6 separate regions of the Homo sapiens genome follow, and all the other regions are linked to region 4. Evidence: fine-mapped expression QTL. A gene starts in region 4. Each other region holds a variant in brackets. All regions are shown on one strand. Distances are between the middles of the regions.

Evidence for each region. PIP is the estimated chance that this variant, and not a neighbour inherited with it, causes the effect. A credible set is the group of variants that fine-mapping cannot tell apart.
Region 1: its variant is the best candidate, but not a certain one, in a credible set for the expression of GNG7 in anterior cingulate cortex (GTEx, PIP 0.55).
Region 2: its variant is the best candidate, but not a certain one, in a credible set for the expression of GNG7 in esophagus mucosa (GTEx, PIP 0.51).
Region 3: its variant is the best candidate, but not a certain one, in a credible set for the expression of GNG7 in esophagus muscle (GTEx, PIP 0.50).
Region 5: its variant is the best candidate, but not a certain one, in a credible set for the expression of GNG7 in whole blood (INTERVAL, PIP 0.54).
Region 6: its variant is the best candidate, but not a certain one, in a credible set for the expression of GNG7 in whole blood (INTERVAL, PIP 0.58).

The regions. Positions count from the first base shown.
Region 1 is chr19:2,520,699-2,525,769 of GRCh38, reverse strand. It overlaps GNG7 (G protein subunit gamma 7), which reads left to right. Exons shown (of 5, transcript NM_052847.3): 4 at 5,045-5,071. Among named protein-coding and RNA genes, the nearest start is that of GADD45B, 47 kb to the right of the region's middle. The variant T/C (reference allele first, on the strand shown) is at 2,146.
Region 2 is chr19:2,669,689-2,674,759 of GRCh38, reverse strand. All of the region lies in intron 1 of GNG7 (G protein subunit gamma 7), which reads left to right. Among named protein-coding and RNA genes, the nearest start is that of GNG7, 30 kb to the left of the region's middle. RefSeq lists a silencer at 4,238-4,438. The variant G/T (reference allele first, on the strand shown) is at 2,572.
Region 3 is chr19:2,676,017-2,681,087 of GRCh38, reverse strand. All of the region lies in intron 1 of GNG7 (G protein subunit gamma 7), which reads left to right. Among named protein-coding and RNA genes, the nearest start is that of GNG7, 24 kb to the left of the region's middle. RefSeq lists a silencer at 2,858-3,006. The variant G/C (reference allele first, on the strand shown) is at 2,255.
Region 4 is chr19:2,700,451-2,705,521 of GRCh38, reverse strand. It overlaps GNG7 (G protein subunit gamma 7), which reads left to right and starts at 2,828. Exons shown (of 5, transcript NM_052847.3): 1 at 2,828-2,876. RefSeq lists a silencer at 2,543-2,932.
Region 5 is chr19:2,642,531-2,647,601 of GRCh38, reverse strand. GNG7 (G protein subunit gamma 7) reads left to right here. Exons shown (of 5, transcript NM_052847.3): 2 at 1,322-1,378. Among named protein-coding and RNA genes, the nearest start is that of MIR7850, 14 kb to the right of the region's middle. RefSeq lists an enhancer at 3,666-4,165. The variant G/AG (reference allele first, on the strand shown) is at 2,359.
Region 6 is chr19:2,661,046-2,666,116 of GRCh38, reverse strand. All of the region lies in intron 1 of GNG7 (G protein subunit gamma 7), which reads left to right. Among named protein-coding and RNA genes, the nearest start is that of MIR7850, 33 kb to the right of the region's middle. The variant G/A (reference allele first, on the strand shown) is at 2,266.

The DNA of each region.
Region 1 (5,071 bases), 180 kb after region 4:
GCAATTATAAACGCCTTTCTATATGTAGATTTTTATTTCTTTTCATTTTTTGCCCTCGGGATAACTGCCGGAGCAAGGGGTTAGAGGGCGGCTGCTCCCTGGGGGTCCCTGTGGTCCCACCTCCCTCCCTGCCGGTGCTGCCAGCTCCTGTCCTGCGGTTTTGTTCAGCCCTTCTGTGCACTGGAGCCTCGTGTCTGATCAGCTCAGGTCTGCTCTGTTTCGGGGCTGGTCACCCTTCCCTGAGCGACCACAGATTTCCACTATGTCCTGGAGTGGGGGGGTACCCTCATCCTTCTTGACTTTCAGGCGCGAGTGGGATTTTTCTGCACGAGGCGGGCTTAGACTCGGGTGTGGCTATGAGCCTTTTGCTAGGAGGCCAGCGCGGGGCCGGGCGGCGTCCCTCTTCAGTTTTATTTTTGGAGAGCCTGGCCTGGAGCCTTGCCTGCCTGCAGGAGCCTGTGCACCGAGGCAGAGCCCGACCGTCAGGAGGGAGCCGTGGGGACTGTGTGCACCTTTGACCACCTGGCCCTGCCCCCGGAGCTGCCTGCTCCCGCCCCTCCCACAGCTTCCCCGGGCCACGGGCCCCGAGGCAAGCTCATTCAGGTCGGGGTGCCCGGCACCCGTGCGCCTCTGCAGGGAGGCAGTTGGGAGGGGCGTTCCTGGCTGACTCAGTGCGTGGCCAGTTCTGCTGCTGTTGGCTTAGTCCTCTGCTGGGGGCATGGCTGCTCCTGAGTCAGTGCCGGCTGGTGACACCACCGAGACGGGGACTTAGGGAGGCGACTGCATGGGTGATGCAATCTGTGTCTGAGTCTCGGCATCTCAGCCCAAGCATCCACATGCACTCCCGTGCGCACACACACGCACACGCATGTACACATGCAGACACATGTACACACCCACGCACGCACATATCCACGCACCTACAGTGACGTACACACACGCCAACACGCATGCACACACCCATAGTGACATGCATGCCCACACACGTGTGCGCACACGCACATGCAGTGCCGTGTCCACACACGTGCACATACACACGTGCACACTGGCATGCATGTCCACACACATGCACGTATGCAAATGCACCTATGCACACACTCATATGCAGACGCACACACGTAGATGTGTACATGCACTCATATAGACACATGCACATGTACACACATGCAAGGATGCACACTCATATGCATGCTGACGTGCACACCCATGCATATGCAGGTACACATACACATGCAGATATGTGTGCACACACGCATATATGCACACTCATGAATGCCAGTATACACATACACACATACATGCACACGCAAGGTACACATACATGCACATGTGCACACACATACACATGTGCACACTGACATGCACACCACGTGTACACACGTGTACAGTCACATGTGCATCATTGACATACATGCAAATAAACATAGACACACACACACAGCGCAGTCCTCTCTGGCCTTCCTGGCAGGCCTGGGTTATTACCCAGCCCAAAGGCAGCATCTCGCAGGGAATTTCGCCCAAAACAGAAAAGCCAGCACGGCTCAGGACCTGATGCTCACATGGAAATTGCGGGCGGTGGCTGCCCAGGGCAGCAGGGGCCCAGGGTCTGGGTGGACACTCCTGACTGTGGATGCTAAATAGGACCCCCTGGCCTTCCAAGGAAAACAGGAGGTGCGGCCAGCCCGTTTGTTCTCTGCGTGCACGTATTTTTAGCACTGAGTAATTTAGGTATTTTTAAGCCCAACCAAGGGCGGTTTTCCCTGAGTTGGATGTTTTGTGGCTGCTTTGAAGCTCTCTGGAATCAGAGCCCTCTGAGCGGCCACACGTGGGCTCTGCCTCCAGAGCAGACAGATTGGGCCTTCTCTGCCCCCAAAAAGTGGGGGTGGGACGTCTGCTGGAAACCAAGGAGGCTGGGCGGTGTCAAAGGGATTTTTTGTTTAATTGCCCCTTTTATTGAGATCGCCGTGGAGTCACAGCCAGTGCTAACAAAGAATGTAGAGGAATTCTGTGTGTCATTCCCCGGCCGTCCCTGGTGGTAACATTTGGTAAAGCTATGGGCAGGATCGCAGCCAGACAGTCACACACCCACCAGCCTCACTCAGGTTCCACAGTATTCAGTATTGTGCCCGCTGGTGTGTGAGTGTG[T/C]GAGGCTCTCTGTGAGTTTATCACTCATGTAGGCTTGTGGATTCATCACCGTAGTTGAGGCACTAACAGGGATCATTCGTGTTGCCCTTTTATTATTTATTCAGAGATGGGGTCTCACTAAATTGCCCAGTCTGGCCTCAACCTCCCAGGCTCAAGTGATCCTCCCACCTCAGCCTCCCAAGTAGCTGGGACCACAGGAGTGCGCTACCCATGCCCAGCTAATTTTCTAATTTTTTGTAGAGAGGGGGTCTTGCTATGTTGCCTAGGCTGGCCTCAAACTCCTGGACTCAAGTGATCCTCGCATCTCAGCCTCCCAAAGTGCTGGTATTACAGGCAAGAGCCACCATGCCTGGCTGTGTTGCCCTTTTATACAGAGACCTATCTCCCTCCCAGCCCCTGCCCCTCCCTGATCCCTGGCAGCCGCTAATCTGTTCTCCATTTCTAAAATTTCGTCCTTGGGCCGGGCATGGTGGCTCATGCCTGTAATCCCAGCACTTTGGGAGGTCGAGACAGGCAGATCACTTGAGGCCAGGAGTTTGAGACCAGCCTGGCCAACATGGTAAAACCATGTCTCTACCAAAAATACAAAGATTAGCCAGGCATGGTGGCACATGCACCTGTAATCCCAGCTACTCAGGAGGCAGAAGTGAGAGTATCGCTGGAGCTGGAGAAGCGGAGCTTGCAGTGAGCTGAGATCATGCCACTGCACTCCAGCCTGGGCAACAGAGCGAGACTCTGTCTAAAAAAAGTCCTCTTAAACACATTACACAAACAGAAGCATGCTACACATCCCAGGCCCTGGAGATTCCCCTGCGGTGTGGTATGCATGGATGGTCCTTTCCTTCTTTTTTTTTTTTTTTTTTTTTTTTTTTTGAGACAGAGTCTCACTCTGTCCCCCAGGCTGGAGTGCAGTGGCGTGATCTCTGCTCACTGCAAGCTCCGCCTTCCGGGTTCACCCCATTCTCCTGCCTCAGCCTCCCGAGTAGCTGGGACTACAGGCACCCGCCACCACGCCCGGGAGACGGGGTTTCACCGTGTTAGCCAGGATGGTCTTGATCTCCTGACCTTGTGACCCGCCCGCCTCGGCCTCCCAAAGTGCTGGGATTACAGGCGTGAGCCACCGCGCCCGGCCAGTCCTTTCCTTCTTATCACTAAGTAGGCATTTTTTGAGAACTCTGGAATCTGCCTTGACTTCTCTGCGGCTGCCTGGCTCTGCAAAACAGACAGCGATGCCATGAGTTATGACAGAGACAGGGTGCGGCTTAATTAACTGCTCACAGACGCCCGGCTGGGACTGCGGCTGCCCAGGACTCTTGAACCTGGCCCCTGCCCCTGCCACCCCCATCAGCACCAACCCCCTCACTGGGTCCTACGAAGCAGGTTTCTCTAGGCTGGACACTACTGACACGTGGGGCTGGATCGTTCCCTGGAGCGGGGCCGTCCTGGGCACTGCAGGGTGCTGAGCAGCATCCGTGGCCTCCACCCACTCCCTGCCAGGAGCACCCCCAAGTCATGACAGCCACAAATGTCCCAGACATCACCCAGTGCTCCATGGAGGGCAGAGTCATCCCCAGATGAGATCTGGGGATTCCACGGACTCCCAAGAGACTCTGCGTCCTGTGATCGTCTGCCCTGTTGAGGTCCTGGGTTTTTCCAGGAGAATTCAAGAAGCAACAGCATGGGCTCCTGACTGGTTCAATATGAAGGACACGGAGGAGAGGCCGGGCTCACACCTGTCATCCCAGCACTTTGAGAGGCCGAGGAGGGTGGATCACCTGAGGTCAGGAGTTCAAGACCAGCCTGGCCAACATGGTGAAACGCTGTCTGTACTAAAAATACAAAAATTAGCCGGGTGTGGTGGCACGTGCCTGTAATCCCAGCTACTCGGGAGGCTGAGGCAGGAGAATCGCTTGAACCCGGGAGGCAGAGGTTGCAGTGAGCCGAGATCACACCACTGCACTCCAGCCTGGGCAACAGAGCAAGACTCTGTCTCAAAAAAAAAAAAAAAAAAACACGGAGGGGGACAGTCACCAGGGGTTCTGCTGTGATCCCTGCCCTGACCCAGGGTCTCCCCTGGGTACTATGGATATCGCGTTCGGATCCTTCCCTGGCGTGGGGCCGTCCGGGGCACTGCAGGGAGCTGAGCAATGTCCCTGGCCTCCACCCAACCCACTCCATGCCAGGAGCACCCCCCACAGCCACAGATGTCCCCAGATATCACCCAGTGTCCCCTGGAGGGCAAGAACCCCTGCCATGGACTGAGGCAGGCCACCCGGGAGCCTGCGTGGGTCCTCCCTTCTCCAGAGGGCCTGGCCTATTGCCTTTGCCCTTTCTTTATTTTTTCTTTATTTTTTTTTTTGAGACGGAGTCTTGCTCTGTCGTCCAGGCTGGAGTGCAGGGGCACCATCTCGGCTCACTGCAAGCTCCACCTCCCGGGTTCACGTCATTCTCCTGCCTCAGCCTCCAGAGTAGCTGGGACTATAGGCACCCACCACCATGCCTGGCTAATTTTTGTATTTTTTTTTTTTTTTTTAGTAACGATGAGGTTTCACCGTGTTAGCCAGGATGGTCTCGATCTCCTGACCTCATGATCCACCTGCCTCAGCCTCCCAAAGTGCTGGGATTACAGGCGTGAGCCACCACGCCCAGCCTGCCTTCGCCCTTTCATTCTCTCGTTCTGCAAACTCCCACAGAGGATTGTGACGGCTGACCGCGTGCCAGGCTCTATGCTGAGAGTTAAACGAGTGCCAGCTCTTTGTACACGGAGGCCCCTGGTCCCCACCCAGAGGCAAAGTGGCCGTGCCTAGAGTCGGGAAGGTTGAGCCAAGGCCGGGCGCCCCTGCTGCCACCCAGAGGCCTGACCTGAACTTTGACCCACACCCCTCTGCTTCCCCCACAGCTCTCTGAACAACGGGGCCCAGAGCTG
Region 2 (5,071 bases), 31 kb after region 4:
GTGTTTTAAAACAGTCACCTTGCAGGCCAGACGCAGTAGCTCACGCCTGTAATCCCAGCACTGTGGGAGGCCAAGGCGGGTGGATCACCTGAGGTCAGGAGTTCGAGACCAGCCTGGCCAACATGGTAAAAACTCGTCTCTACTAAAAATGCAAAAATTAGCCGGGCATGGTTGTGGGCGCCTGTAATCCCAGCTACTTGGGAGGTTGAGGCAGGAGGATCGCTTGAGCCCAGGAGGTGGAGGTTGCAGCGAGCTGAGATTGCACCACTGCACTCCAGCCTAGGCAACGGAACAAGACTCTGTCTCAAAAAAAAACAAAACAAAAACAAAAAACAAAAACACCAGTCACCTTTGGAGACCTTGCCCTTTTCCCAGCAGTGTGACGATTCTGATTCCCTTCAAGAGTGGATTGTACTGCTTTTGTATATTTCAAACATACAATTGTGTGTATTTCCATTATATTTCAGATTCTTTTTTCTTGTTTGTTTTGTTTTTGAGATGGAGTCTCACTCTGTTGCTCAGGCTAGAGTGCAGTGGGGTGATCTCGGCTCACCGCAACCTCTGGCTCCCAGGTTCAGGCAATTCTTTTGCCTCAGCCTCTGGAGTAGCTGGGATTATAGGCAAGGTGCCACTACACCTGGCTAGTTTTTATATTTTTAGTGGAGATGGGGTTTCACCACGTTGGCCAGGCTGGTCTCAAACTCCTGACCTTGGGTGATCCGCCCACCTTGGCCTCCCAAAGTGCTGGGATTACAGGCGTGAGCCACGGTCCCTGGCCTCAGATTTCTTTTAGGGTAGTTTTGAATTTTGGAAACAGCCTATATTAGTTAGCTAATTCTGTGTAACAAATTATCACAAATGTATCCTAAGAAAACTCTGAAATATATTGGAAATATACACAATTGTATGTTTAAAATATACAAAAGCAGTACAAGGCCCTCTCTCTAAAAAAAGAAAGAAAGAAATTTTCTAAAAAGACCAGTATCCATACATTATCACGAACTCAACTCCACACTTTATTTACATTTTATTTTTCTTTCTTTCTTTCTTTCTTTTTTTTTTTTTTTAGATGGAGTCTCGCTCTTTCACCCAGGCTGGAGTGCCAGTGGTGTGATCTTGGCTCACTGCAACCTCCACCTCCTGGGTTCAAATGATCCTCCTGCCTCAGCCTCCCAAGTAGCTGGGATTTCAGGTGCCTGCCACCCTGCACGGCTAATTTTTGTATTTTTAATAGAGGCAGGGGTTCACCATGTTGGCCAGGCTGGTCTCGAATTCCTGACCTCAGGTGAGCCGCCCGCCTCGGCCTCCCAAAGTGCTGGGATTACAGGCGTGAGCCACGGCGCCCGGTCTTTATTTCCATTTTCTTGTTTTTTCCAGGAACCCACATGCCATTGACTCCCGACATCTCCTTACACTCTGCTGGGACACTTCTCAGACTCATTGGTTTTGATGACCTGCTGGGTTTTTTTTTGTTTTGTTTTGTTTTGTTTTGTTTTTTTTTTGAGATGGAATCTCGCTCTGTCACCCAGGCTGGAGTGCAGTGGTGCTATCTCAGCTCGCTGCAAGCTCCGCCTCCCGGGTTCACGGCCATTCTCCTGGCTCACCCTCCTGAGTAGCTGGGACTACAGGCGCCCGCTGCCACGCCCAGCTAATTTTTTGTATTGTTTAGTAGAGACGGGGTTTCACCGTGTTAGCCAGGATGGTCTCGATCTCCTGACCTTGTGATCTGCCCGCCTCGGCCTCCCAAAGTGCTGGGATTACAGGCATGAACCACCGCACCCGGCCAACCTAGTGGTTTTGAGGAGGACTCGTCAGGAGTTTTGTAAAATGTCCCCCAACGTGAGTTTCCATGATGTTTGCTCTTGAATAGTCTGGGGTTCAGGGCTCTGGGGAGAACACATCAGGGGCACGTGACGTCCACACTGGTGGTGTTGACATTGGTCACCTGGCCAAGGTAGAACCCAGTGGCTTTAAACTTTGAATTATTGCCAGCATTTAAAAATCAGGGGTCACAGACCAGGCGCGGTGGCTCACACCTGTAATCCCAGCACTTTGGGAGGTCGAGGCGGGCAAATCACTTGAGGCCAGGAGTTTGAGACCAAGCTGGCCAACATGGTGAAACCCTATCTCTACTAAAAATACAAAAATTAGCCGGTGTGGTGACACACACTTGTAATCCCAGCTACTCAGGAGGCTGAGGCAGGAGAATTGCTTCAACATGGGAGGCAGGGTTTGCAGCGAGCTGAGATCGCACCACTGCACTCCAGCCTGGATGACAGAGTGAGACTCTGTCTCAAAAGAAAAAAAAAAAAATCGGGCGTCACACCTGTAATTCCAACACTTTGGGAGGCTGAAGCAGGAGGATTGCTTGAGGCTGGGAGTTCTAGACCACCCTGGGCAACACAGTGAGACCCCATCTCTACAAAATATTTAAAAATAGGCCAGGTGCAGTGGCTCACGCCTGCAATCCCAGTGCTTTGGGAGGCTGAGGCAGGAGGATGACTTGAGGTTAGCCTGGCCCACATGGCAAAACCCTGTCTCTACTGAAAATACAATTAGCTGGGTATGGTG[G/T]CAGGTGCCTGTGGTCCCAGCTACTCGGGAGGCTGAGGCAGGAGAATTGCTTGAACCTGGCAGGCAGCAGTTGCAGTGAGCTGAGACTGCGCCACTGGGTGAGAGAGCGAGACTCCATCTTTTTTTTTTTTTTTTTTTGAGACGGAGTCTCACTCTGTCACCCAGGCTGGAGGGCAGTGACGCAATCTCGGCTCACTGCAAGCTCCACCTCCCGGGTTCATGCCATTCTCCTGCCTCAGCCTCCCGAGTAGCTGGGACTACAGGTGCCCACTGCCACGCCCGGCTAATTTTTTGTATTTTTAGTAGAGACGAGGTTTCACTGTGTTAGCCAGGATGGTCTCGATCTGCTGACCTCGTGATCCACCCGCCTCGGCCTCCCAGAGACTCCATCTTAAAAAAAAATAAAATAAAATAAAATGAAACTAAAAATCAGGAGATTTTACAATAGAACATCTCCCAGCTTCTCAGAGTAGTTGGAGGAGCTGATGACATTGGGCTTCACACCCACTGGGGCAGGAGCGGTGCCTGATGCCCTTTGAATGGGCCAGGTGTTGTCTCTCTGGGGCTCCGCATGCTACCCGTCACCTTCCCGCCTCAGGGCTGACCTCAAATTCATGACCCCTGGACATGGCCTCGGAGCTCAGCCAGGACGAACGTTCCCCTGCCTGGCTCCTCCCCAGCTCTCGGGTCTCGGGGAGGCGGCTGAAGCTGGGGGAAGCGTGTGAGGCAGAAGGCAGGCCGGACAACGTCACCTTGAGCCTCATTCACCTCGTTCGTCAGCACTTGGAGGGTTGGTCCTTTTGGCTGGTGCTGGCCAGGTCGAGGCTCAGAGCCACCGGTGTCCAGGGGGATCCGGGGTGGTCCTCGGCCTTCCTGCAACTGCCAGGGTGGTCATCAGAAAGGCTCCTGAGCTGCTGGGAGTTGGTGGAAGGTGGGTTGTCTGAGATCAGCTGGAGAGTTTTAAACATAGTTGGGTACTGATTTGTGGTCGTCACAGTTAAGAGAGGGGCAGCTCCTGGCATGGACTGGGTGGAGGCCAAGGATGCTGCTCAGCACCCTGCCGTGCCCAGGGTGACCACAGAGAACGATCCATCCTTGAATTCCAAGGGGGAGAGACCCTGCTTTAATTATTTGGAAAAATATCGAGTCTGCTCCCTGCTCACACCAGACACCAGAATAAACTCCCAAAATCAGGGGGACCCCCAGCTCCTGGGATTCACCCCCTCTCTCCCTCCCCACTCAGGGTGGGGATATCAATATGTGCAGCCTCCTGGGACCTCAGCAGGGCAGAGGATCATGGGACGCCGTCTCTTTGTGGGAGGGGTGGTCCTTGGAATCTGTAACCCAGGGGGTGTCAATGGTGGATGATTCTGTCCCCCAGGGGACACCTGGTAAAGTCTGGGACATTGTGGTTGTCACAACTTGTGGGGGGCGGGGCGAGGGCTCCTGGCATGGAGTGGGTGCAGGCCAGGGATGCTGCTCAGTACCCTGCAGTGCCCAGCACAGCCCCGCCCGAGAGAACACTCCAGCCCCAGTGCCTCAGCAGTGCCTAGGGGAGGAGACCCTGGACCAAAGTGACCCTCAGAGAATAGGGTGCTCTGTGAATCTCCACACCCGTCACACAGCCATGCCCGAGGCAGCTCAGGGTCTGGGAAAACAAGCCACATGGGACGCAGTGGCCGTCCTAGCTCAGCAAGTCTGACCGTCTGGAGGCTGCAGGGCTGACTTTGTGGAGTCAGGGTGACCTGTGTGCCTGCAGACACCGGCGCTGGGAGCGCAGGCCTCAGCTCTGTCCCCCGTGACAGCGGGGTCGAGGTGACAGCACGGCTCCCGCGGGGGCCTCAGAGGCAGGCCTGCTGCCAGTCTCTGCTCCCCCGACAGTGGGGTGGGTCTATCCCCACTGGTGCTCCTTCCTCTGGAGCCAGGCTGAGGGGAGGGTGGGTCTCCGTGGCCAGAACCAGGCTGCACCAGACAGAGCTTATTTCACCCCCTGAGGAGGCTGACCCTGCTGTTTTTGTTCCTCCAACAAAATATTAACGGAGCACTCAGAGAGAGAGAGAGACAGAGAGTTTCAAAAGAAAACAGTCAGAGGCCTTGAAGTAATGATGTAGGGCTCTGGGGCTCTGTCTTGTGAGGTGTCCACACACCTTTTCTTTTTCTTTCTTTTTTTTTTTTTTTTGAGACAGAGTCTCGCTCTGTCACCCAGTCTGGAGTGCATTGGCGCGATCTCAGCTCACTGCAACCTCTACCTCCCGAGTTCAAGTGATTCTCATGCCTCAGCCTCCCGAGTAGCTGGGATTATAGGTACCCGCCACCACGCCTGGCTAATTTTTGTATTTTTAGTAGAGACGGGGTTTCACCGTGTTGGCCAGGCTGGTCTTAAACTCCTGGCCTCAAGTGATCCTCCCGCCTCAGCCTCCCAAAGTGCTGGGATAACAGGCATGAGCCGCTGCACCCAGCCATCAACAGACCTCTTCTGTAAAGAGCCAGAGAGTAAATA
Region 3 (5,071 bases), 24 kb after region 4:
ATCAAAGAAACAAAAACTGTCGGTTTCACTTCAAAACATGCTCCGCGTCAGTCCTCAGGGAAATGCAAATCAGAGCCATGGTGAGATACCACTTCACGCCCAGTAAGATGGCTAGAATTAAAAAACCAGAACAACAAACAATCACAAGGGCTCACGGGGAGGTAGGACATGGGGACCCTCATGCGAGCTCGGGAGACGAAGGTTGCAGTGAGCTGTGATCACACCACCGCACTCCAGCCTGAGCAACAGAGCAAGACCCTGTCTCAAAAAAGAAACGAATGAAGTCGGGAGTTCAAGACCAGCCTGACCAACATGGAGAAACCCCGCCTCTACTAAAATACAAAATTAGCCAGGCGTGGTGATGCATGCCTGTAATCCTAGCTACTTAGGAGGCTGAGGCAGGAGAATCTCTTGAACCCAGGAGGCGGAGGTTGCAGTGGGCTGAGATCTCACCATTGCATTCCAGCCTGGGCAACAAGAGGGAAACTCCATCTCAAAAAAAAAAAAAAAAAAAAATTGTAAATTTTGTGTTAAGTGTATTTTACTAAAAAACCCACTGTTAGTCTATGTGGTCACTTTTCAGAGCTTTTAATTTTTAATTTTAAAATGTTTTAATTTTTTAAAAAATAGAGACAGGTGGCTGGGCAAGGTGGCTCATGCCTGTAATCCCAGCACTTTGGGAGACCGAGGCGGGTGGATCACCTGAGGTCAGGAGTTTGAGACCAGCCTGGCCAAGATGGTGAAACCACATCTCTACTAAAAATACTAAAATTGGCCAGGCATGGTGGCGGGTGCCTGTTATCCCAGTTACTCGGGGAGGCTAAGGCAGAGAGAATCACTTGAACCTGGGAGGTGGAGGTTGTGGTGAGCCGAGATCGCACAACTGCACTCCAGCCTGGGCAACAGAGCGAGACTCTGTCTCAAAAAAAAAAAAAAAAAAAAAGAGACAAGGTCTTACTATGATGCCCAGGCTGCTCGAACTCCTGGGCTTAAGCGATCCTCCCTCCTCGGTCTCCCAAGATGCTGGGGTTACAGGCGTGAGCTGCCGTGCCTGGCTGACAGTCTTAGACTGTAAGAAGACGGTCCTGTTTTTCTCCCTGTGGGTTTCTCATCTTTCTCCACTGTGGGTCAAGCCTAATAGAGCTGTGGACACTGACTGGTTCTGTTTTAAGGGATTCTGGCATTGGATTTTGAGTTTCTTCACATCTGGGACTACTGAGCAGGTCATGTCTTTGATTTAGGTCTTGCCAAGCCCAGGTAATTTAGGAAGGTGCTACCTGGTGCCTGGAGTTAATACAATGAGTAAGGTGAAGATGCAGATGGGAATGCAAGGGGTTGAAAATTCTGTCCTGCTTTGAGGAAGTGGGACCTGGGGGAATAGGATATGTAAAAAGTGAAAGGTGGCGAATCATGGAGGGTTCTGGAATCTTCTGGAACCTTCTAGAAACTCCCAGAGCCTTCTAGAGTTTTCTGGAATGTAGGCATGGTGAGGCATTGGATTTAGAATGCCTACTTAGCCACCATGTGACTTTCTTTCTGTGTGAATTTTGAAGAAAACATGGAACCTTTCTGTTTCCTTGTGTGTCAGACAGGATAGGAATCACTCCCTAGGGTCATTGAAAAGATTGGGATGGACTACGAGGCTGTGACCTGGATGGGTGGTGGTCCTGGTTATCACTGTTATTGCTGGAATCACTGCTAATATTATTCAATATATTATGTATAAATATTAGTATTGGCTGGGTGTGGTGGCTCACACCTGTAATTCCAGCACTTTGGGAGGCTTAGGTGGGAGGATTGCTTGAGCCCTGGAGTTCGAGACCAGCCTGAGCAACATAGTGAGACTCTATCTCTACAAAATTTATTAAAAATTAGCCAGATATGGTGGTGCACACCTGTGGTCCCAGCTGCTTGGGAGGCTGAGGCAGGAGGATTGCTTGGAAGCCTAGGAAGTTGAGGCTGCAGTGAGCTATGATTGCACCACTGCATTCCAGCCTGGGCAACAGCAAGATCCCGTCTCAAAAAATTAGCATTGTACTATATGTTACTTATGTTGTTATTTTTCCTCACGGACACCATGGGCGTGGACCAAATTCAGAAAACGATGAAGTCTGTTCTTGGGGAGATGGGATAGGAGCTGTAGCTTGGCTGGGCTGGCTTAAGAATCAGGCTTGTCTGGAAATCGGAGGGACCGTCATGAGAAGCTGTTGGTTTCCGATCGTCGAAGGCTGCATGACGGAGGATGGGTTGGCTG[G/C]TGCAAAGGTCAGGGAAGGGATTCTGTTGGCATGGGGTGTAGACCTGGCGTTGAAGGCCACTCCTAGCTCTGAGAGCTGGGACCCCTTGAGAGAAGTAGTTACCAGGCTGGGGCTTGGCAGAATCAGGGTTGGAGGTGATGATCTTGGAGGCGCTGCCTGCTGCCCAGGACCCTCCGAGACTGGACACCTTATCTGATTCTTCTCCCTGTGTTGTGGATGGGGAAACTGAAACCGTATGCATTTATTACCCCATCCCAGGATTTGGTTCCTCCACCCATAATAGGTGACTGAGTTCAAAGAGCCAAGTGTGACCTGTGTACAGTGGGTGTGACCCACCTGCCCACTGTGTGGCAACCATGTCATCCCTGGAAGTTTGCATTCCGTGGCTTTTCCTCTGTTACTTTTTTGACTCCGTGCCCAAGCCCAGCAGCTTCTGAATCCAAAGCCTTGCTATGCCACAATACCTACTATATTTCAGAAAATTCTGGAAGTTTCCAGAAGCTTCTGGAAGATTCCAGAACATTCTACAAGTCACCTTTCACTTCTTGTATATCTCGCTCCCCCCAGGTTTTACTTCCTCAATGTAGCATGTGCCCTGAGATGGAAGTGACCACAGTCACACCCACTCTCTTGTTTCTTGCTGTGACAGTGTTGGCGTCGGCCACCGCCACCTCCTCTTCCACTCAGGGCCACAGTGGAAGGTCTGGATGCCTGGTGTTCTGTTTTCCTAAGGCTGCTGAACCCTAACTAACATCCACACAGAGGCCACTGGTGGTCAGCACAGGTGGCAGGGTTAGAAAGGTTGGGACTGGCTTTGTCCTTTGAGTCAGAGGGACAGTCACACTCATGTTTGTGTGACCATATGCATGTGGCTATGGTCAGTCCTATAGATTATGGCAGCGGTTATCACTCTCTGTCACTGTGGACCTTGGGGCCAGATCGTTCTCTGAGGTGGGGCCATCCTGGGCACTGTAGGGTGCTGAGCAGCGTCCCTGGCCTCCACCCACTCTATGCCAGGGACACCCCGAGTTGTGACAACCAAAGATGTCCCCAGACATTGCCCAGTGCCCCATGGGGGGCAGAATCACCCCCAGGTGAGACCCCCGGGGGTTAGGGGATTCCACAGATCCCCAAGAAACTCTGTGTCTCATGATCCTCTGTCCTCCTGAGGTTCCAGGAGGCTGCACACATTGTAATCCACACCCTGAGTGGGGAGGGAGAGAGGAGGAGAATCGCAGGAGCTGGGGCCCCCCTTGGTTTCTGCCATCCACCCCATCGGGAATTTTTTCTAGTGTCTGGTGTCAACAGGGAGCAGATACAATATTTTTCCAAATAATTAAGGCAGAGTCTCTCCCCCTTGGCATTCAGGGCTGGGTCGTTCTCTGGGGTGGGGTTGTCCTGGCCACTGCAAGGTTCTGATCAGCATCCCTGGCCTCCACCCACTCCACGCCAGGAGCATCCCTGAGTCATAACAGTCACAAATGCCCCCAGACACCACCTAGCATCCCCTGGGGACCAGAAGGACCCCTGGTTGAGAACCACGGTTGTATAGAAAGGAATTGAAGCAAAAAAAAAAAAATGGAATTCTCTGCTCCCCTGTGGCATCCTGTTGATGGATTAGATTCAGCCTCCATGCTCCAACACCGAGCTCAGCGTCTCCTGGAAGGCCCTGTCTCCAGAGGACGTTCCCAGATCCTGCTCCCTGGAAGAATTCTTGCGAGCATATATGCAAGTGTAATTAAGCGGCCGTTTTTCCTCTGTGGTGACACAGATTTGGGTCTGCAGTAAAGATATGGAGTCCCTTTAGAGCTGAGAGCCGGATCACGGCCAGGAGAATGCCTTGCTTTGAGATTCTCTGGGAATCGGGAGTCCTGCCTGGGTGGAAATCAGCCCTGGACAGGGAGGGAATGTGCAGATCGGAGCAAGTGGCTTGTTTCTTCCTGGCAACCCCAGAAGCTGTCTGAACAGCTTCTCTCTGCCACACATCTCTTTGAGTCTTGCACCCGCCCGGCTGAAAATTACACCCAACTCCTCCAGCCGGGTCTAGGAAGTGGTGCAAGCTCCTGAACCTCCATCTGCAGAATAACTAACTAGCTGTTCCTGAAAACCACCAAAGAGGCTGGGCGCGATGCCTCACACCTGTAATCCCAGGACTATGGGAGGCCGAGGCGGGAGGATCACTTGAATCTGGGAGTTTGACACCAGCTTGGGCAACATGGTGAAACCCCATCTCTACAGAAAGCGAAAACAAAAATTAGGCAAGCATGATGGTGCGCGCCTGTGGTCCCAGTTCCTTGGGAGGCTGAGGTGGGAGGATCGCTTGAGCCAGGCGGTGGAGGTTGCAGTGAGCTGAGACTGTGCCACTGCACTCTAGCCTGGGCGGCAGAGATATATCGCTGAGGGTTTGACGGACACTTCTAGATGGAAATCAATGTCTATCTGGTGCCTTGGGGGCTGTGCATGTTCACGAGGAGGGTGTCTGAACATGCCAGGATGTGGGTGCCTAGGGGAGGGTCTCTGTGGGGTGAAGTTTGGATATTTGAGGGCGCCCATGGAAAATGACTTCAACCTGCATGGCTCAAAACCACAGAAATGGATTTTCTGGCAGTTCTAGAAGCCAGAAGTCTGAGACGAAGGTGTGGGCAGGGCCGTTCCCGGCCCAGAAGCTCCCGGGGAGGATCCTTCCTGCCTCTTCCAGCATCTGGCAAGTGGCCGGCGGTTCTTGGCGCCCCTGGGCTGGTGACATCGCTCCAGTCTCTGCCTCCATCCTCACACGGCCCCCTTCCCTGTGTGGGTCTGTGTCCAAATTTCCCTCG
Region 4 (5,071 bases):
CTCTTGTTGCCCAGGCTGGAGTGCAATGGCACGACCTCGGCTCACCACAACCTCTGCCTCCTGGGTTCAAGCCATTCTCCTGCCTCAGCCTCCCGAGTAGCTGGGATTACAGGCATGTGCCACCACACCCGGCTAATTTTGTATTTTCAGTAGAGACGGGGTTTCTCCATGTTGGTCAGGCTGGTCTCAAACTCCTGACCTCAGGTGATCCACCCGCCTTGGCCTCCCAAAGTGCTGGGATTACAGGCGTGAGCCACTGTGTCCGGGTGGGCGCCTGTAATCCCAGCACTTTGGGAGGCCGAGATGGGCAGATCACGAGGTCCGGAGATCGAGCCCATTCTGGCTAACACGGTGAAACCCCGTCTGTACTAAAAAATAAGCTTGGCGTGGTGGGACGTTCCTGTAGTCCCAGCTACTCAGGAGGCTGAGGCAGGAGAATCGCTTGAACCCGGGAGGCGGAGGTTGTGGTGAGCTGACGTCACGTCATTGCATGCCAGCCTGGGCAACAAGAGCGAAATTCCATCTCACACACACAAAAAAGAAAATAATAATAATAATAATAATTAAATAGAGATGAAGCCTCGCTATGTTGCCCAAGCTGGTCTCGAACTCCTGCCCTCAAGGGATTCTCCTACCTTGGCTTCCCAAAGTGTTTGGATTAGAGGCGTAAGCCACCATTATTCTAACTATTTTGAAATGTACAATACATTGTTGCTAACTACAGTCACCCTATTCTGCTATCAAACATTAGAATTTATTCTAATACTATATTTGATAGCAGAATACATCCTATTCTGCTATCAAACATTAGAATGTATTCCTTCTGTCTAACTGAATGTTTGTACTCATAACTCACCTCTTTTCATTTCCCCCCCACTCAACCTACACAACTTTCCAGCCTCTGGTATTGATCATTCTACTCTCTACCTCCATGAGATCAACTCTCTGGTTCCCACGTATCAGTGACAACATGCCCTATTTGTCTTCCTGTGTCTGGCTTATTTCACTTTTTCACTTAATATAATGACCTCCAGTCCCATCCATTTTGCTGCAAATGACAGGGTTTTATTCTTTGTTATGGCCGAATCATATTGCATTGTGTATTTAACACTTTTTTTTTTTTTTTTTGAGACAGAGTCTCACTCTATCGCCCAGGCTGGAGTGCAGTGGTGTGATCAAAGCTCACTGCAGCCTCAACCTCCTAAGCTCAAGCGATCCTCCTGCTTTCGCCTCCGAAGTAGCTGGGACTACTGGTGTGCGCCGCCAGGCCTGGCTAATATTTTAATTTTTTTGTAGAGTTGCGGTCTCAGTATGTTGCCAGGCTGGTCTTGAACTCCTGGGCTCAAGCGATCCTCCCGCTTCAGCCTCCCAAAGTGCTGGGAATACAGTCGTGAGCCACCGTGCCCTTCCCAAGCTCTATCTAGACAGTCATTCCTCTTGGGGGATGCCAGCTGGGGAGAGCCTGGAGGAGGGCAAGCAGGGAGATGGAGGTTTCTCTGTGCCCTGCAGGGCAGGCCACTGGAGTCCAGAGGATGAGCAGGGAGGTTCTTGCAGGGATGACAGGAACCCTGGGGAAGTTTATCTTGGATTTTGGCCAGCAGCTCCAATCCCAGGGCTCAGGTGGGGCGGCAAGGACACACAGTGTCAGCGCCTGATGAAATCCCTGAGGTCACAGAATATGGTGGCTCCATCTTCCTTCCAGGGCTGTGTACTGCTTTTGGAGACATACAAAGTGTTTTCCAATATTCCCAAGGGAGCTTGTGGAAAATGAAGATTCCAGGCCTGTAATCCAAGCATTTTGGGAGGCAGAGGCAGGAGAATCACTTGAGCCCAGGAGTTCAAGACCAGTTTGGGCAACATAGCAAGACCCCATCTCTAACAAAAAAAAATTAGCCAGGGCCAGGCACGGTGGCTCACGCCTGTAATCCCAGCACTATGGGAGGCCAAGAAAGGTGGATCACCTGAGGTCAGGAGTTGGAGACCAGCCTGGCCAAAACGGTGAAACCCTGTCTCTACTAATAATACAAAAATTAGCTGGATGTGGTGGTGCGTGCCTGTGGCCCCAGCTACCCGGAAGGCTGAGGTGGAAGGACTGCTTGAGCCTGGGACTTCAAAGCTGCAGTGAGCTATGACTGCACCACTGCAGTCCAGCCACGGCAATTGAGTGATACCCTGTCTCAAAAACAAAACGAAAACTAAACAAAACACAGATTTCAGGGTCCAGTTCCCTATAGGATTCTGGTTCATTCCATCTGTGTTGGGGCTCAGGAATTTGTGGATCCAGGGCCATGAGTTAGGAAACTGAGAAATCTTGGAAATGATGAGACAGGCTTGGGCAAATGACCTTAGGTTTCACCTTTCTGAGACCCAGTTTCCACCTCTGTAAAATGTGGATAGTAATCTCGCCTTCTGGCCTTATGCGGAGGGTCCCACGAGAGGGAGCCTATAAAGTCTTCAAGAAAGCGGTGCAGCAGTTATGATCACTGACATTCTTCCCCAGCAAATGAGCCCCCGGAGCTGGCATGCAGGATTCGAACCAGCTCACCTAGCGCGGGATTCGAACTCGCGAAACTACTCGCGCCTTCCTGACGTCACGAAGTCACCCTGGAAAGCCGCTCTTCGCCCCGCCCCCGGCCCCGCCCGCGCCCGGAGCCCCGCCCCACTCTCCTGGGCGCAGCCTACCCCGCTGCCTGCCCCGCGCCCCGCCCCCGCTCCGGCCTCCCGCAGCCGGGGCTCGCGATTGGCCTTGCCGGGACGCCAGGGCCCGCCCCCCGAGTGTCGGCCCCGCCCCCGCAGAGGGGAGCGAGCGCTCGCGGGCCGGGGCGGAGGGTTCGGCTGCGCGGCGGGGCTGAGGCGGCCGCGGGGCCCGAGCGCAGGTAAGGGCGCCCGCGAACCGGGCCAGGGGAAGTGAGGGCGCGGCCGGCGTCCCGGAGAGGGGACTGGGACAGCTCGGATTCGGCTGCGGACCGAGTTGGGGGTCGGAGTCGGCTGAGGAGGGGGGCTGGGTCTGGGGACCCGGGCTGCAACTGGAGGCTGGGGTTGGAATTGGGGACGGGGCTGCGCTTAGGGGGTCGAAGTTAGCTGGGGAGGGGCTGGGGTTGGGGATTGGGACTGCACTTGGGGCTCAGGGCTAGCTGGGGAGGGGGCGGGAGTTGCAGGTCGAGGTTAGCTGGGGACGGGGCAGGGGGTGCAGATCGAGGTTAGCTGGGGAAGGATTGGGTCTGGGCATTGGGACTCCACTTAGAAATCAGGGCCAGCTGGGGAGGAGGCTGGAGTTGCAGGTCCAGGTTAGCTGGGGAGGGGGCTGGAGGTGGGATTGGAGGTCTGAGTTAGCTGAGGAGGGGGCTGGGGGTGAGACTGGAGGTCTGAGTTATCTGGGGAGGGGACTGGAGTTGCAGGTCGAGGTTAGCTGGGGAGGGAGCTTGGAGCGGGATTGGAGGTCTGAGTTGGCTGGGGAGGGGTCTGGAATTGCAGGTCCAGGTTAGCTAGGAAGGGGCTGGTGGTGGAATTGGAGGTCTTGAGTTTGCTGGGGAGGGGGCTAGAGTCGCAGGTCGAGGTTAGCTGCCGAGGGGGCTTGGAGTGGGATTGGAGGTCCAAGCTAGCTGGGGAGGGGGCTGGAATTGTAGGTCGAGGTTAGCTGGGGAGGGGGCTGGAAGTGGAATTGGAAATCTGAGTTAGCTGGGGAGGACGCTGGGGATGGTGTTGGGGGTTGAGGTTAATTGGAGCGGGGAACAGGGGTTGAGTCAAGGGTGCAGCTTCTTTGAAGAGGGAGCTGGGAGTGGGGTTGAGGTTTGCAGGGAGCTGGAGAGGGGGCTGGGGATGGAGTTTGAAGTGGGGTTCATTGGAGAGGGGGCTGCAGAGGGAATTAGATGTTGAGGTTGTCTGGGGAGAGGACTGAGGAATGGGGTTGGTGAAGATGGGGGGGTGTGATTGACGGCCCAGGGGTTAGGGTTAGCTGAAAAGGGGCAGAAGGACAAAGCTGGGGTGAGCCAGGGAGTGGCTGGAGCATACAGGTGGGGGTCAGGCTTGTTCCAGAAAGGGTCTGGGGGCTATCAGGGGAAATGGGGAGCTTGTGAGTGTGTGGGGTGGAAGGGGGTTCAGGGAGAAGGAAGTTGGGGTGAGTTAGTGAGAAGGGAGGTGGGGGTAAGGTCCCAGGCTGGAGACACCTGGGGGCAGGTGTTTTGCTAGACATTGACTAATCAGGAGGAAAACGGGGTGTGGGGAGGTGTCTCAGGTAGGATCCAGTTAAAAGGAATTTGGAGAGGACTCACCCCTCTACTTTTGGGGGAGATGTTAATTGTTTGCTCTAGAACTGGGCACGGGGCAGAACCCCCTGGGGAACAGTGAGTTGAAGGAGACGGGAGTTCGGAATACTTTTTGAGGTTTATTTCTAGGATATAGGGTGCCAAGGAGAACGCTTCAGGAAGGAGAAAGGCTCCTGTCGGTGACTGAATTTTTCAGGAACTAAAGTGGGAGTTTTTGGGACGGTGCTATTGAGCGACGTGGGTGGCACTTTATTTTTCCTGGGGAGCGGGGGTTGCTAGGGGTTGGGAGGTGGGCGGTGGAAGACAGGCTTGATGAACAGAGGCAGCGGATCCCCAGCTAAGCGTCTTCACACGGTTGCTAGGTGTCAGCGAGGCAAATGCCAAGTTCACAAACTTGTTCCCGTCGTGGGATGCTGCGATCTTGCCTTGATGGAGTGTCGGGGGCCTCTGGGAGGTGCGCCTGTGTGTGTTCCGACCCAGCCTCTCGCTGCGGATTTGGCTGTATCATCTTTTGGAGGTGTTGTTTACTCCCCTGCAAAGCGGGAATAATAAAAACAGTAGCATGTGCCTCTCAGGGTCGAATTACGGGATGTATGCATGGACTATTTCCTAGCATATAGTGAGGGTACCTGAAGCATGGAGAATAATGGACTCAATCCAGTTTTTTTCTTTGGTGGGTTTGGAGATGGAGGAGTGGGATGACTGGGTTGTCACAGAGGAGAGGAAAGGAAGTGACTGGAACTTGACTCTAGTCCTGCAACCTTAGGAGCACACATCAGGGTCACCCCCAGAAGCTTTAAAAAATA
Region 5 (5,071 bases), 58 kb after region 4:
GGGTCACAGGCGGGCACCACTACACCCTCCTAATTTTTAAATTTTTTTTGTCAAGATGGGGTCATTTTGTAGAGATGGGGCGACTCGCTGGGAGGACCCTGGACTCCGCATGAGGCCTCCTTGTGACTGTGGTTTGTCCCAGCAAGAGGACATGGAGCACAGAGCAGAGTTTGGGAAGGGAAAGGCTCGTGGGGTGGGTCGGGGAGGCCAGGCCCGGCTTCTAGGCCCAGCTTCCAGGCCCTCTCCCCATGTGTCACGCGGGACACGCCACATCCCCAGCAGCGAGCTGGGACAACAGCCCAAAGCACTGTCACCAGCGAGGCTCCCAGAGACCCAGCACCCACGTTCCTATGGGGGCTGGTTCTGCTGCCCCTGCTGCCTGACCCATGCCAGGATTCCAGGCTCCAGAGGGAGGCAAGGATTTCATATAAACCACGGTGTTTGCAGGAACAGCTTTGGCCCTGGAGCTTGTCCTGTCAGTGATGGTGGCAGGGTCCCCCCGAGTCCCCCGAGGTGGGGAGTTCCTGGTCGCAGCCTCAGGCATGTGGTGCCAGCCTGGTTCTGCTCAGAGACTGCCCGTACCAGCTGAGCTGGGGCTGAGGGACTTCCCAGGATGCAGGACTTTCAGGCTAACTCTGGAAAAGTCCTGGGCAGACCTGGATACGTTGGGTGCCTTCTGGGCACCGTGGGACTAACTCAGCCCCTTCTTCTTCCTCCCAGGGAGATCGTGAGGCTCCAAAGATGTACAGAGATGTTTTTGATAAACTGTGAAGAGCCGTAGAAACATCAATCCTTGCACTCAGTTCAGTTTTCAAACACGTGGAAAATGTATTAGGAATAACGTCATAAATCTCTAATAATAAATATTTTCAGTGAATTGTCTTCTGCTTTTTTCCTTTTCTATTATTTTTTTTTTTGAAGCAGAGTCTTGCCCTGTTGCCCAGGCTGGAGGACAGTGGCTCGATCTCAGCTCACTGCACCCTCTGCCTCCCGGGTTCAAGGGATTCTCCTGCCTCAGCCTCCTAAGTAGCTGGGACTACAGGCACCCACCACCACGTTGGCTAATTTTTATATTTTTAGTAGAGACGGGATTTTGCCATGTTGGCCAGGCTGGTCTCGAACTTCTGACCTCATGATCCACCTGCCTTGGCCTCCCAAAGTGCTGGGATTACAGGCCTAAGCCACCGCGCCTGGTTGCCAAAATGATTTCTGTCCTTGTCCAATCACAAGCGCGAGGCCGTTCTCCAATGCTGACCCCATCAACACATGCATGGTGCCTCCAGCCAAGCCACGCCAAACTAACTCTATGTGTTTTTTCCAGGGAGTGGAGCTTGGTTTCGGGATCTCGGTGCTGCAGACGGCGAGACCTCCTGCACAGGTCGGTGCTGTAATGCATTTCTTTGTTATGATTTGAGGTTCAGTTGGCTGTTTTGCACCCTGGATGTAAGACGTGGGGTTGCCGTCAAGGCGGGCGTCTTGGCCTTGACCTGGGTCTGTCGGCTGTTTGTATCCACCAAGTATGGGTAATGGGGAGCAGGTGTGGGTAACAGCTGCTAGCTCCTGGCAGAGTTTCCCGCCCACGAGGCAGGGAACGTGGCACTCACTGGTCCTGCTGGTGCCGGAGCCCCTGGATGGGGTCAGGGTGGGAAGCCCACAGCGGTGCTGCATGCCTTTCCGGTGTCTTCGTGCCATGGTAGGGAGTTTTAAGGAGCCTTCACCCGTATCTCCTGTGCACCTGGAGAGTGACCCGTCGCTGGCCCTTTAGCTCTCCTCTGTTGATTTACTCCTCGTTTTTCTCCCTAGAGAATCATGAGTGGCTTTTAAAATGTAGGAAGAGGAAACCATTTAAAAATAAGTAGAAAGGAAGGCAGAAATGTCCAGAAAAGGCAAAGCCATAGGGACAGAAAGGGACTCGTGGTGATTGGAGGCTGGGGACATGAATGTGCACCAGAGACTTGCCAGGGACGTGGAAATGGACCCGATGGTCGGGTCGGGGTGACCGCAACCTGGTGAACTTACTTAAAAATCTTAAAACAAAATTTTTTTTTAAGAGTTAGGGTTTTGGCCAGGCATGGTGGCTCATGCCTGTAATCCCAGCACTTTGGGAGGCCGAGATGGGTGGATCACCTGAGGTCAGGAGTTCCAGACCAGCCTGACCAACATGGTGAAACCCCATCTCTACTAAAAATAGGAAAATCAGCCAGGCGTGGTGGCAGGTGCCTAGAGTCCAAGCTACTCGGGAGGCTGAGGTGCGAGAATCACTTGAGCCTGGGAGATGGTGGTTGCAGTGAGCCAAGATCATGCCACTGCGCTCCAGCCTGGGTGACAGAGCGAAACTCCTTCTAAAAAAAAAAAAAA[G/AG]AGAGAGAGAGAGAGAAAAGAAAGAAAGAAAGAAAAACAGAAAAGAGTTAGGGTTTGCTTTGTTGCCCAGGCTGGTCTTGAACTCCGTGGCTCAAGTGATCTTCCTGCTTTGACTTCCCAAAGTGCCAGGATTACAGGTGCGTACCATTGCACCCGGCCCTGAAGTATCTTTGAGCAGTACACTTCACTTGAATTTTATGGCATGTAATGTGTACCTTAAAAATGCATATTTTAGCTAAGCCCAGTATAAATCATTTTGGTCTCATCCTTAGTAGTCAATGGTCATGAGAGGTAATTCAGAAACAGATGTACTCAAAAGTCAAGAATATGTTCAAATTTAGCAATAAGGCAAAGACTCCAAATGTCCATCAATGGGTGAATGGATCAGCAGAACATCCTCCATCCACACCATGGAGTGTTACTCAGCCATGAAAAGGAATGAAGCTTTGACACAGGCCACAGTGTGGATGTACCTTGAGGACGTCACGCTCAGTAAGAGATGCCAGACACAAAAGGCCACACAGCATGTGATCCCCTTTCTACAAAAGGTTCAGGACGGGCCGATCCACAGAGGCAGGGAGGGGATGCGTGGGTGCCGAGACTGGGAGGGGCATGGGAAGTGATGGTTGATGGGTTTCTTCTTCTTGGCATAATTAGAATGTTCTGGAATTAGTGGTGATGGTTGCAGGACTCTGAATGTACTAAATGCCATTGAATTGTGCGTTTTCTTTTTATTTTATGATTTTTTTCTTCTTTTTGGTGCCGCAGATAATACTCAGAAAGAATTATGCATTTTAAATGGGTGCACTGTATGTCATATGAATTACATCTCAATAACATGATGCATGTATAGATAGAGCATTATATATATATATATATATATATATATATATATATATATATATATATATATATAAAGTGTAGGCCGGGTGCAGTGGCTCACACCTGTAATCCCAGCACTTTGGGAGGCCAAGGCAGGTGGATCACCTGAGGTCAGGAGTTTGAGACTAGCCTGGCCAACATGGCGAAACCCCGTTTCTACTAAAAATACAAAAATTAGCCAGGTGTGGTGTTAGGCACCTGTAATCCCAGCTACTTGGGGGGCTGAGGTGGGAGGATTGCTTGAACGCGGGAGACGGAGGTTGCAGTGAGCTGAGATTGCGCCACTGCACTCCAGCCTGGGCGACAGAGCGAGACTCCATCTCAGAAATAATAAAATAAAATAAAGTGTAGATGCAAAAAGTGTAGATATAAAATATATGTATAATATTTATTTATGAAGCCAAACATAAAAATGTAAAGGACTTCATATTGTACAATTCCACTTACAGGAAAATTCTAGAAAAGGTGACAGATCAGAGGTCGCCTGGAGGCTGGGGGGTTGGGATCGGGGCAGCTCTGGGAGTCGATGACAGCGTCCCATTGAGATTATGCTGATGGTTGCATAGCTGTAGAAATGAATGGCAACCCTTAGAACCATGTGCGCTTGAAGATTAGCGTGCCCAGTGTGCATCGCAGGGTGTGTAACTGCACCCCAGTGAAGCTGTGACACCAACAGAAAAGCTCAGCCCGAAAAAGGAGGCGCAGGGCTGGAAGGTGTGCAGAGCCCGGAGAGGTCTCGGACTTTGCATTTCCGGTGCCGACGGAGCCGGGCCGGAAGGTGTGCAGAGTCCGGAGAGGTCTCGGACTTTGCATTTCCAGTGGACATGGTGCAGGGCCGGAAGGTGTGCAGAGCCCGGAGAGGCTCAGACTTTGCATTTCCGGTGCCGACGGAGCCGGGCCGGAAGGTGTGCAGAGTCCGGAGAGGTCTCGGACTTTGCATTTCCAGTGGACATGGTGCAGGGCCGGAAGGTGTGCAGAGCCCGGAGAGGCTCAGACTTTGCATTTCCGGTGCCGACGGAGCCGGGCCGGAAGGTGTGCAGAGTCCGGGGAGGTCTCGGACTTTGCATTTCCGGTGCACATGGTGCAGGGCGGGAAGGTGTGCAGAGCCCGGAGAGGCTCAGACTTTGCATTTCCAGTGCGGACAGTGCAAGGCCGGAAGGTGTGCAGAGCCCGGAGAGGTCTCCGACTTTGCATTTCTGGTGCACATGGTGCAGGGTGGGAAGGTGTGCAGAGCCCGGAGAGGGCTCAGACTTAGCATTTCCGGTGCCAATGGCGCAAGGCGGAAAGGTGTGCAGAGCCCGGAGAGGGCTCAGACTTTGCATTTCTGGTGCACATGGTGCAGGGCGGGAAGGTGTGTAGAGCCCGGAGAGGGCGCAGACTTTGCATTTCGGGTGCCGACGGCAGGGCCAGAAGGTGTGCAGAGCCCGGAGAGGTCTCCTGCATTTCCGGTGCACATGGTGCAGGGCGGGAAGGTGTGCAGAGCCCGGAGAGGGCTCAGACTATGCATTCCCGGTGCTTCCTGGGGCTGCCACAGGTTTGGTGTTGGGCTTCTTCAAACATTCAGTTCTGGCCGGGCGCCATGGCTCACGCCTGTAATCCCAGCACTTTGAGAGGCCAAGGCAGGAGGATGGCTTGAGCCCAGGAGTTTGAGATCAGCCTGGTCAACAGAGCGATATCCTAAACTCTACAGAAAATTAGACAGGTATGGTGGCACGCACCTGTAGTCCCTGCTAGTGGGGGGCTGAAGTGGGGAGGATCGTTTGAGCCTGAGAGTTTGAGACCAGCCCAGGCAACATGGTGAAACCCCATCTCTACAAAAAATACAGAAATT
Region 6 (5,071 bases), 39 kb after region 4:
AAGCAGGCAGATCACCTGAGGTCAGGAGTTCGAGACCAGCCTGACCAACATGGTGAAACCCTGTCTCTACTAAAAATACAAAAATTAGCTGGGCGTGGTGGCGGGCGCCTCTAATACTGGCTATATGGGGGACTGAGGCAGGAGAATCACTTGAACCCGGGAGGCAGAGGCAGTGAGCCAAGTTCGCACCACTGCACTCTAGCCTGGATGACAGAGCAAGACTCCATCTCAAAAAATAAGTAAAATAAATTGAAAAAGAATAATAAAAGGAGGTAATCCAGGTTCTAAATAATAAAGCCAGTATGTGCCATGACCCATGGCTCAGACACCACTTTAAACATTTTATAGATACTCATTTATGTAATCTCCAAAACCAGTCTCACAGGGTGGATGCTGCTTCGATGTGCATTCTACAGAGTGGGAAACTGAGGCACAGCGACAGTGGCAAGGGACTGAAGGTCACCCAGCCAGACAGCGAGTCGTGAAGTCAGAATGGAGTAGCTCTTGTCCAGCACTCCACCTTGGCCATACCAGAGCGTACGTCCCCACCCAATCCTTCCTCGGGACTCAGTGGAGCTATTTTCACATTGAGGGGAAATAGAAATCCGTTCGTTCTCATTTTCTTTCTTTTTTTTGTCCCGCATGGCCCTCTTCCCAAATCCTTGTTGCCCGTCTCACCAGACATTCCAGTTCCAAGAGGTGGGGTGTGGCGAGGACTGTCCAGCACGGCAGGGTGATCCTGCCCCCCCCCCCCCAGGGGACACTGGGCCATGTCTGGGGACATTTGTGGCTGTCACCATTGAGAAGTGCTCCGGGCATGCAGTGGCTGGAGGTCACGGATGCCGCTCAGCGTGCTGCAGTGCTCAGGACGGCTCCATCCCAGAGAATGGTACAGCCCCAGTGTCCACCGTGCCTGGGAGGAGAGACTCAGCATTCATTATTTGGAGAAGAAATGGAGTCTGCTTCCTGCTCACCAGGACACACTCCTGATGGGGCAGACGGTGTAAACCAGGGGACCCCAGCTCGTGGGATTCACCTCCTCTCTCCCTCCCCCCAACTAAAGGTGTGGATTTCAATGTGTGCAGCCTCCTGGGACCTCAGCAGGACAGAAGATCAGGGGACAGAGTATCTTGGGGGTCCGTGGAATTTCCTAATTCAGGGGGTGTCAACTGAGGGTGATTCTGCCCCAGGGGACACTGGGTGTTGTCTGAGGACATTTGTCGTTGTCACAACTTGAGGATGGTCGTGGCGTGGAGTGGGTGGAGGCCAGGGACACTGCTCAGCACCCTGCAGTGTCCGGGACAGCTGCACCCTAGAGAATGACCCAGCTCTGAATGTCCACGGTTTCCAGGGGAGAGACCTTGCATTAACTGGCAAAAAAATGAGTTTGCTCCCTGCTCACAGTAGACACCAGAATAGATTCCCGATGGGGCAGACGGTGTCAGCCGGGGCCATCCTCCCAGAGTGACCTAGAGGACTGGGTGAGGAGGGTCTCTAGAGCACTGAGGGTGCAGGACACAGAGCCAACCGTCTGATTGTTCCTTCCCCCTCCTTGACCTCGGCTCACAGAGACCTTGAACCCTCAGGGTCAAGCAGGCCTGCCCCTTTGTTCTGTGTGCCCCAGGGTGCAGTGGAGCCTGTTCCAGGTCACGCCCGGCCTGGCCGTCATCAGTCTCGTGGCTCTGAAGCAGCCACGTCACTCCCCCAGTCCCGGCACCTCCCCTGCGCCTGCACCTGGGTGAGAGCCCGTCCAGGCCTCTCTGCCCCCTTCCTTTGCAATCAGCACTTTGCTGGTGACATATTTAGATGGTTGCTGTGGTGATGAGTGAAGGCTGAGGTTGACAACTTCAGCGATGGCACAAAGGACAGGGCTGTGTTTCTATATCCAGCCTCCAACGAGACAAGACGCCCCTGCCACGTGCTGGCAGAATGTCAGCGTGGGAAGGGAAGGGGGCTCTGACAGCCCGTCCTGCCCACTCAGTTCCCAGAGGAGGAAGTGCAGCCGGGCCTGGGGGGCGGTGGAGGATAGGCCTGTCATCAAATGTCAGGTCCCTGGCTGTCCTGCCCTTGAGGGACATGCCTTAGAGCATTGGGTCTCAACTGGGGGCAAGCCTGCCCCCTGGGGGACACTGGTAATGTCTGGGGACATTTGTGGGTACCGTGACTTGGGGGTGCTCCTGGCCTGGAGTAGGTGGAGACCAGGGATGCTACTCAGCACTGTGCAGTGCCCAGAACGGCCCCACCCCAGAGAATAATCAAGCCCCA[G/A]TTTAATAGTGTCAAGATCAAGCCACGTTGCTTTAGTAGGAAATAGATAAAAGCCAGTGGATTTGTTCAGTTTTAAAAACTGGTGCTGGCATGCATATCTTGATAATTTGCAAAATGCCAAAATGAATCATTTTCTTGGCCTGGTCATTCTTCTGATTTGCCCTCAGTGAATGTACCTTATCCATCTGGGCTTTTGCATCTCTCCCAATTATCAGGTTGATAGATATTGGAAAAACAAGAAAATGAAAAATCCAATTGCTGGCTTTTAGGAAAAGGTAATGTTTGACTACACACCTGTCTTTATTTTGTGCTGCTATAATGGAATGCCATAGACTGGATAATTTATAAATAATAGAGATTTGTTTCTTAACGGTTCTAGGGACTGGGAAGTCCAATGTCGAGGTGCTGGCATCTGGTGAGGGCCTTCTTGCTGCGTCAGAGGTGGAAGGGCAAAAGAGCACATATATGAAAGATTGGGGAACTGGGGAAGAAAGAGGAGGGGGGGGAGAGAGAGAGAAAGGGTGAGAGGGAGAGAGAAAGAGAGATGGCATTAATGAGGGTAGGGCCTTCATAACCTAATCACCTCTTAAAGTTCTCACCTCTCAACATGGTGGCATTGGGAATTAAAGTTTCTACAATATGCTTTTTGGGAGACACATTCAAACTATAGCAACATCTGCTTGGAGGAGTCATGTGGATCAGCCCTTCCTTCCCTTTGCAGATGTACCAGTTATCTATCACTGTGTAACAAATTACCCCAACACTTAGCTTAAACAGCAAGCATTTACTATCCTGCAGTTTCTGTGGGTCAGTGGGATATTATATTACTTGCATTATATTTATTATATTATTTGGTCTTTGTCCTGATTTTTTTCTGGTGCAGAACTCCTAAAATCCTTGGAATCTGCAAAGTCATGTCTTTTTGTATGATGATAAGTCGACTGATGGCTGACAGCTTCTAGTTATTTTCAGGAATGGTCTGGCCACCAGAAAGATCAAGGCAGGATGAGAGGGCTGGAACCTTTAGCTGTACCCTCCAGCCTCTGGGGAGGGGAGAAGGGCTGAAGGTTGAGGTGATGACCAGTGGCCAGTGACGCGATCAGTCATGCCTATGAAGTAAAGCCTCCATAAAACTTCAAAAGGACGGGGTTTGGAGAACTTTGAGATAGCTGAGCACATGGAGGTTCCTGAAGGGTAGCATGCCAAGGAAGCTTTGCCCTTCTTCCCTATACCTCATCCTATGCATCTTTTCGTCTGTATTCTTTGTAATATGCTTTATATTAAACCAGTAAATGTGTTTCCCTGAATTCCGAGAGCTGCTGTAGTAAATTAAACCCAACCCTAACTTCAAGCTGGTCAGTTGGAAGTTCTGGAGGCCCAAACTTGCTACTGGTATCTGAAGAGGTTAGGGGCAGTCTTGTGGGGGGATTTAGCCCTCAACCTGTGGGGTCCAAGGCTGTCTCCAGGTAGATAGCACCTGAATTGAATTGAACTGAATCGAATTAGGGGACAGCTAGCTGGTGTGTGGGGAAACTCCTCTCACATTTGGTCACAGAAATATCTTGGGTTGATTTTTTTTTTTTTTTTTTTTTGAGATGGAGTCTCGCTCTGTCGCCCAGACTGGAGTGCAATGGTGCAATCTCTGCTCACTGCAGCCTCCGCCCCCCAGGTTCAAGTGATTCTCCTGCCTCAGCCTCCTGAGTAGCTGAGATTACAGGTGCCCACAACCACGCCTGGCTAATTTTTGTATTTTTGGTAGAGACAGGGTTTCACCGTGTTGGTCACGCTGGTCTCAAACTCCTGATCTTAAGTGATCCACCTGCCTTGGCCTCTGAAAGTGCTGGGATTACAGGCGTGAGCCACTGCACCTGGCCATGTTGATTGCTGTTGATGTGAGAGCAAGAGGAAAAGCAATTTGAGTTTGAGTTTTTTCCACCCTCACTCAGGAGTTAGGAAGCAGCTCCACTGGGTGATTCTGGCAGTGAATGTGCTGGGGCTGTATCATCTGAAGGCTCGATTGGAGCTGGAGGAGCTGCTTTCAAGAGGGCGCCCTCATGTGGCTGTTGGTGGAGGCCTCAGCTTCCAACTGGCCTTGACAGGAGGGCAAAATGCCCAAATGAGTCGTTCCTTCCTTCTTTCCTTTTTTCCTTCCTTCCTTCCTTTTTTTTTTTTTTTTTTTTTAATGGAGTCTCACTTTGTCAGCCAGGCTAGAGTGCAGTGGCACAATCTTGGCTCACTGCAACCTCTGCCTCTTGGATTCATGCAATTCTTCTGCCTCAGCCTCCCGAGTAGCTGAGATTACAGGCATAATTACAGTAATTAGCCAATTACTGGCTAATTTTTATATTTTTTTTTAGTAGAGATAGGGTTTCACTGTGTTGGCCAGGCTGGTCTCAAATTCCTGATCTCAAATGACCTGCCCCAACCTTGGCCTCCCAGAGTGCTGGGATTATAGGCATGAGCCACTGTGCCCAGCCTGGAGGGCCCATTTCTTTCTTTCTTTCTTTCTTTCTTTCTTTCTTTCTTTCTTTCTTTCTTTCTTTCTTTCTCTTTCTTTCTTTCTTTCTTTCTTTCTTTCTTTTCTTTCTTTCTTTCTTTCTTTCTTTTCTTTCTTTCTTTCCTTTTCTTTTTTTTTTTTTTGAGACAGAGTTTTGCTCTTGTTGCCCAGGCTGGAGTGCAGTGGCACGATCTTGGCTCACTGCAACCTCCGCCTCCCAGGTTCAAGTAATTCTCCTGTCTCAGCCTCTCTAGTAGCTGGGATTACAGGCATGCACCACCACGCCCGGCTAATTTTGTATTTTTAGTA